Linked DNA regions of Homo sapiens. The protein of the gene in region 2 purifies or fractionates together with the protein of the main gene of each other region. This does not show direct contact. Each region holds a gene or a part of one and is shown on either strand. Other genes may lie near its edges. The genes, in order: NIT2 and NQO1.

Evidence for each region.
Region 1: the proteins of NQO1 (region 2) and NIT2 fractionate together in Homo sapiens (co-fractionation; one large-scale study listed by BioGRID). This does not show direct contact.

Annotation. Positions count from the first base shown.
Region 1 is NC_000003.12:100,341,202-100,345,021, reverse strand, and holds part of NIT2 (omega-amidase NIT2), read right to left. Parts: intron 1-3,820. UniProt on the Homo sapiens protein: Has omega-amidase activity. The role of omega-amidase is to remove potentially toxic intermediates by converting 2-oxoglutaramate and 2-oxosuccinamate to biologically useful 2-oxoglutarate and oxaloacetate, respectively.
Region 2 is NC_000016.10:69,716,443-69,720,262, forward strand, and holds part of NQO1 (NAD(P)H dehydrogenase [quinone] 1), read right to left. Parts: intron 2,093-3,820; coding exon 1,928-2,092; intron 1,812-1,927; coding exon 1,681-1,811; intron 1-1,680. UniProt on the Homo sapiens protein: Flavin-containing quinone reductase that catalyzes two-electron reduction of quinones to hydroquinones using either NADH or NADPH as electron donors.

The DNA.
Region 1 (3,820 bases), on a different chromosome or scaffold from region 2:
GATCACGCCATTGCACTCCAGCCTGGGTGACAGAGCAAGACTCTCTCTCTCAAAAAAAAAAAGAAAAAAAAAATACTTATCAGAATCAAACTGACAAATTGACAGGAGAGGTGGAAAGTAGGTGGGCATTTAAAAATCACCTGAGGTCAGGAGTTCAAGACCAGCCTGGCCAACATGGTGAAACCCCGTCTCTACTAAAAATACAAAAATTTGCCAGACATGGTGGTGCATGCCTATAATCCCAGCCACTTGGGAAGCTGAAAGAAGAGAACAGCTTGAACCAGGGAGGTGGAGGTTGCAGTGAGCCAAGATCACACCACTGCACTCCAGCCTAAGCGACAGAGCAAGACTCCATCTCAAAAAAACAAAAACAAAAACAGAAAATGAAAGAGCATCTAAAAACACCAATGAGGAATAAATCTCACAAATGTTAAACAAAATTATACCCAAAAAACTATAAAAAGAAATTGAGAGAAAGTAAAGAAAGCGTAATAAATGTCAGGATATATACCACATTCATGGACTGGAAAACTTAATACTAAAAAGATATACTTCAAAGAGTTGGGTTAATAGTCCAATGCTGGCTGTTCTTCCAGCAGGTACACAGTAGCTCCTATCAGACCAGTTTTCTTGTGGTTAACTATGAACTCTGGACAAAATAAAAGGCACAACTACTTAAAGCACTGAAGAATGACCAAAACAAAGCAGACAAAATCTGAAGAGAAGAACACAGACATGTGGAAGCAGGGAACAGCCCTGGGTGAACTTCCTGGTGCTATTTACAGCTGCTACCCTGAAGCAAGGTCCCAGTTGCTGTGATAAGTAGTGGTGAAAATGACCCATAATCACACTGGCTTGAAGAACCAGAGCTGGAAACCAAGGGGGGAAATCCTGAAATGGAGAAAGCAAAGAGGGAGAGCCCTAAATTCTGCATATAAAATCTTTCTAAATCTCTGGCTGATCACTGAGTTAAATAGAAGTGGGGCAGAACAACCAGATAGAACAGAGCAGCTAAAGTTGCTGCCCACGTTTCAAAGAAGATAAGAGTTTGGTGTTTGGGTGCGGCCAAGTTAACCATCAGTTAAAACAAAATATTCAACACTTTTTGGAAGACTGTAATAGCATCTTGAATCTCTACAATATATAATCCACTGTACAATCTTAAATTAGTAGATACTCAAAGAAACAGAAGTGTGATCCAAACTGCAAAGAAAAGGCAATCAAATGAACACAGATCCTGCCATGACCCAGATGTTATAATTTTTTTCTTGTTGTTTGCTTGGATATGAGTTTATTTACATCAGGGGCCTTTTAAAGGCCTAATAGTCTCATTCTGTGGCACACAGATGTGATAATTATCAGACTTTAAAGCAGCTATAGAAACTAACTAAGCTCAACACTGTAAAGAAAAATATGCTTTTAATGAACAAATAGAAAATATCATAGAGTAATAAAAACTATAAAAAAGAAGCAAAGGGGTATTTCAGAACTGAAAATTTTAATATCTCAATTTTTTAAAATTTCACTGGGTTGGCTTACGGGAAATTGAAGAAGACAGAAGAAACAGTGAATAAGTCTGAAAGATCAACAGAAATTATCTAATCTGTAGAAGAGAAGGAAAAAGTATTGGAAAGACAAAAACAGAAAAACAGAGCCTGGTGACCTTGGAAAAATATTTAAAAATATAATATACATATACTGGAGCTCCATAAGAAAAAGGAACAGAAAAATATTTAACAAAATAGTGTCAAAAAACTTCCCAAACACAGTGAAAGATTTAAATTTACAGTTTCAAGAAGTACCAAGGAAGGCAAAGACAAAGGAAACCACATCTAGGCATATCAGAGTCAAAATACTAAGAACTAAAGATTATGAAAACACTTGAAAGAAGGAGAGAAAAAACAACAAATTATATCCGAGGGAACAATACAAATTACTACTCACTTCTCATCAGGGAAGAAAAAAAAAAAGGCTAGATAACAACTACTAGTGGAAAAAAAGGAAAACTATCAATCCAAAATTCTATTCCAGCAAAAATATCTTTCAAGAATGAAAACAATGTAAAGATATATTCATAAAGAAAAACTAACAGAATTCCTAGCTAACAGATCCTCAGAACAAAAATTCTAAATGAGATCCTTTGGTCTGAAGGATATACCAGATAGAAGGAGGATCTTCAGGAAGGAAAGAAAAACACCAGAAATGATAAATATTTGGGTAAACATAAAGATTTTTTTCTTCTTAATTTCCTTAAAATACATATGACTATTTAAATCAAGTATTCCTGTTTTGTGGGATTTATAACATATATACATGGAATACAAATGACAACTATAGCATAAAGAATGAGGGCAGGGGCAGTGGGGTAGAAAAATGGACCTATATCATTATAAGGTTCTTAAATTTCACATGAAATGATATAATATGAACTCTTAAGTAGCCTGTGAAAAGTTAAGGATGCATATGATAATTCCCAGGGCAACAACTGGAAAAAAAAAAAAAGCTAAGATGTATAACTAAAAAGCCAATAGATAAATTAAAACAGAACTCTAAAAAATATTCAATTAATCCAAAATAATACAGAAAAGATGAACAAAGGGAAAAAAAAGTAAAATGTCTCTATCCCTAAATTCAATCATATCAATAAGTGCATTAAATATAAATGGACTAACCACTTCAATTAAAAGACACAGATTGTCAGAATAAAGAAAAAATTAAGATACAATTATATGCTGTTGACAAAAGAGATCCACTTAAAATATAAAAACACATATAGCTTGAGAACAAAGAACTGGAAAAACCACGTACCAGCAAACATTAGGCATAAGAAGGCTGGAGTGGCTATAGTGATAGCAGAGATAAAGCAGAATTCAAGACAAGAGGTATTACAAGAAAAAAAAGAGATATTTCATAATGATAAAAGGGTCAACTCATCAAGAAGACTTAATGATACTAAATGTATATGATTTTTTTTTTTGAGATGGAGTCTTGCTCTGTCTTGCCCAGGTTGGAGTGCAGTGGCGCAATCTTGGCTCACTGCAGCGTCCACCTCCTGGGTTCAAGCAATTCTCCTGTCTCAGCTTCCTGAGTAGCTGGGACTATATAGGTGTGCACCACTACACCCAGCCAATTTTGTATTTTTAGTAGAGATGGGGTTTCACCATGTTGGCCAGGCTGGTCTTGAACTCCTGACCTCAGGTGATCCACTTACTCAGACCTCCCAAAGTGCTGGGATTACAGGCATGGGCCACTGCACCTGGTCATGTATACGCATTTAATACTAAAAAGATGGCAACTCTTCCCACAGTGTTCTCTATATATTCAATGAAATACTAATAAAAATTACTATAGGTTGGCTGGGCACGGTGGCTCATGCCTGTAATCCCAGCACTTTAGGAGGCTGAGGCGGGTGGATCATGAGGTCAGGAGATTGAGACCATCCTGGCTAACACGGTGAAACCAAGTCTCTACTAAAAATACAAAAAATTAGCTGGGCATGGTGGTGGGCACCTGTAGTCCCAGCTACTCGGGAGGCTGAGGCAGGAGAATGGTGTGAACCCAGGAGGCAGAGCTAGCAGTGAGCCAAGATTGTGCCACTATACTCCAGCCTGGGTGACAGAGCGAGATTCTGTCAAAAAAAAAATTACTATAGCTTGTTCCTTTGCAGAAATTGACAGGCTGAGTCTAAAACTTATATAAAAATGCAAATGGCCAAGAATAACCACCTGTGCCAATCAGTCAAAACCCTAATACATGTGTGATATAATGAGAGGGACTAGGGAACTTCATAGCAAATTTTTTTTCCACACATTGTTGCTGG
Region 2 (3,820 bases):
GATTGCACCATTGCACTCCAGCCTGGGCAACAGAGCGAGACTCCATCTCAAAAACAAATAAATAAATAAATAAAATGTTAAAAAATAAAAATTATAATAAATAATAATTAGGGTGACTAAGGTTCATCAGGGACTTCCCATGAGAAAGTCTTGTCTGACCTCTTATCCTAATAAAAGCAGAGTAAGGACTATACCAGGAGGTTTTCTTATCCTTGATTCATGATTTAAAGATATGAAAGGCACATGCCTATAATCCCAGCCTTTTGGGAGGTCCAGGCAGGCAGATCACTTGAGCCCAAGAGTTTGAGACCAGCCTGGGCAACATGGTGAGACCCTATTTGTACAAAAAAATTAAAAAATTAGCAGGGCATGGTGGTGTGCACTGATAGTCCCAGCTATTCGGGAGACTGAGGTGGGAGGATCATTTGAGCCCAGGAGGTTGAGGCAGCAGTGAGCAGAGATCATGCCACTGCACTCCATCCTGGGTGACCGTGAGACCTTGTCTCCAATTTAATTTTTTTTTAAAGCCGTCCTTTGGGGTACTGGCTAGTGGCATGTGGCTTTGATTCTTAGCAACAGGCCTGTGGGTAAAATAAAGGACTTCAAGGATTGGATGTTTTGTAGCTGATTGAATAACTAAAAAAAAAAAAGAGAGAGAGAGAGAAAAAAAAAACACAGCCTGTACCACCCTCCTCGTGGTTTCCAGGATCATATACATTCTATGTTCAATATCAAAAGACTGGCTGGAATTGTAAAAGCAAAGTCATTGAGTACAGTCACATTTATAGGAAAGATCACTGACGAGATGCACGCACAATCCCAGCATTGTCTGCTAAACGGTAAGGCAGCTTCCCGAAGAAGAAAGGCCGTGGTTTGCTGCAGGAACACATTCAGCAGGGTTTCAAAGCCCCCTTCAGCTGGCAGGCTACAATGGCAGAGAAGTCAATGTCTCATGGATTATTCTACAAAGTATTTGGGATTCTTATGGAGAAAGGAGGAGAACTGCAAATTTTGAGAGAGTCCAACAGGAATCGCTAACCGCAGGATTCGCTAACTGAAGGAATCGCTAACTGAAGGAATCGCTAACTGAAGGGGAGACTAAGTACCTGGAAGAAAGCAAGCTCAAGGACTGTACATCATCTCTGCAGCTGCATTTCTTTCTTTCTTTTTTTTTTTTTTTTGAGACAGAATCTCGCTCTGTCGCCATGTCACCAGGATGGGGTGCAGTGGCGCAATCTTGGTTCACTTCAACCTCCACCTCCCGGGTTCAAGTGATTCTCCTGCCTCAGCCTCCAGAGTAGCTGGGACTACAGGCACATGCCACCACGCCCAGCTAATTTTTGTACTTTTAGTAAAGACAGGGTTTCACCATGTTGGTCAGGATGGTCTTGGTCTCTTGACCTTGTGATTCACCTGCCTTGGCCTCCCAAAGTGCTGGGATTACAGGCGTGAGCCACCGTGCCTGGCCTTGCAGTTGCATTTACACATGCAACAGTAATACAGCCAGATTCCCAATATCTGTGAAATCCATGTAATACTGCACCTTTAAAGTAATCACCCTTATTTGCAGAGAATGCAGTAAAGTGGGTAACTGTTTAAGATCTCATAGCTAATTAGGTACATGTCTAGGACAATAAGCACGCAAATGTCCCTGACACCCCTTCCGATGTCCCCCCATACCTGGAATATCACAAGGTCTGCGGCTTCCAGCTTCTTTTGTTCAGCCACAATATCTGGGCTCAGATGGCCTTCTTTATAAGCCAGAACAGACTCGGCAGGATACTGAAAGTTCGCAGGGTCCTTCAGTTTACCTGCAGAGAAGAAAAAGAGAGGCTGGGGCCAGAGGGGCCAAAGCTGGGCCAGAGGACCCACAGGCAAGGAGATCCGCAAAGAACTAATTAAAGAGGGGAGGAGGAACTCCTCCTACCTGTGATGTCCTTTCTGGAAATGATGGGATTGAAGTTCATGGCATAGAGGTCCGACTCCACCACCTCCCATCCTTTCTTCTTCAAAGCCGCTGCAGCAGCCTCCTTCATGGCATAGTTGAAGGACGTCCTCTCTGAGTGAGCCAGTACGATCAGTGCTCTTCTGCCTACAGAGACACACACAAAGCACACACGGAAAACCCATTACCAACCAGCAAACCTTCAGCTACAGGGGAGTTGCAGTCTGTAAAGGAGGGGGCGGCTTTGTTTGACATTAGGTTATTGCATTCCATCTCCTGTAGCCAGAAATGTATTTTCCCCTTAAAAGCACTGAAGATTAAAGGAAGCATTTAAATCAGTGGCTGATTTAATAAATAATGTTGACAACTGGGCTCTGTGGCTCATAACTGTAATCCCAGCACTTTGGGAGGCCAAGGTGGGCAGATCACCTGAGGTCAGGAGTTTGAGACCAGCCTGGCCAACATGGTGAAACCCTGTCTCTACTAAAAATACAAAAATTAGCTGGGTGTGGTGGCAGGCACCTGTAATCCCAGCTACTTGGGAGGCTGAGGCAGGAGAATCACTTGAACTCGGGAGGGGGAGGTTGCAGTGAGCCAAGATTGCACCATTGCACTCCAGCCTGGGTGACAATGGGAGACTCCGTCTCAAAAAAAAAAAAAGATGCTCTGCGTGACCTGTCAGGAAAAGCAAAATTAAAATGAGACATTTACCCATTCGTTTACATGGGTACTGTGTTTACATTTACCGTGAGTTTACATTTACCCACAAAATGTAAAACAAATAACACCCAGGGTTATTAAGATTGTACCAACAGAAAAATTGGCACCTTACTGGTGGGGATAAGAACTGCCTCAACCTTTAGGGAAAGTAATGAGGCAGAATCTCTTGAAACTTTAAAGACACATAAATCTTTTATCTCGCTCTCCAATTTGGGGGAATCTGTTCTACAGACTAAAAGCTTCAGGCTATAAGAGCAAAGATGTGTATTACACCATGCTTTTCACTGGCAAAAATTAGATATAACCTGATTGTCTATGGGGAACATTTTAAGAAATTATGGGTACATCCACACTACAGGATATTTTGCTGTTAACAAGAATGAGTTGGCCAGGCACGGTGGTTCGAGCCTGTAATCCCAGCACTTTGGGAGGCTGAGGCGGGCAGGTCACGAGGTCAAGAGATCAAGACCATCCTGGCCAACATGGTGAAACCCTGTCTCTACAAAAATACAAAAATTAGCTGGGTGTGGTAGCGGGCACCTGTAATCCCAGCTATTCGGGAGCCTGAGGCAGGAGAATCGCTTGAACCCAGGAAGCAGAGGTTGCAGTGAGCTGAGATCTTGCCACTGCACTCCAGCCTGGGTGACAGAGTAAGACCCTGTCTCAGAAAAATAAATAAATTAAGATAAAAGTAAAAAATATATAAAAAAGAATGAGTTAAACTGGCTGGGCACAGTGGCTGGAGCCTGTAATCCAGCTACTTGGAAGGCTGAGGCGGCAAGATCCCTTGAGGCCAGGAGATGGAGACCAGCATGGGCAGCATAGTGACACCTTGTCATAAAAAAAAATTTTTAGAGACTGTTGACCAGGTACGGTTGCTCACGCTTCTAATTCCAGCACTTTGGGAGGCCAAGGCGGGAACATTGCTTGAGCCCAGGAGTTCAAGACCAGCCTGGGCAACATGACAAAAGCGAAATCCCTTCTCTACAAAACGTACAAAAATTAGCTGGGCATGGTGGTGTATGCCTGTAGTCCCAACTACTCAGGAGGCTGAGAGATGGAAGGATCACTTGAACCCAGGAGGTTGAGGCTGCAGTGATCCGTGATCGCCGCACTGCACTCCAGCCTGGGTGACAGAGGGAGACCCTGTCTCAA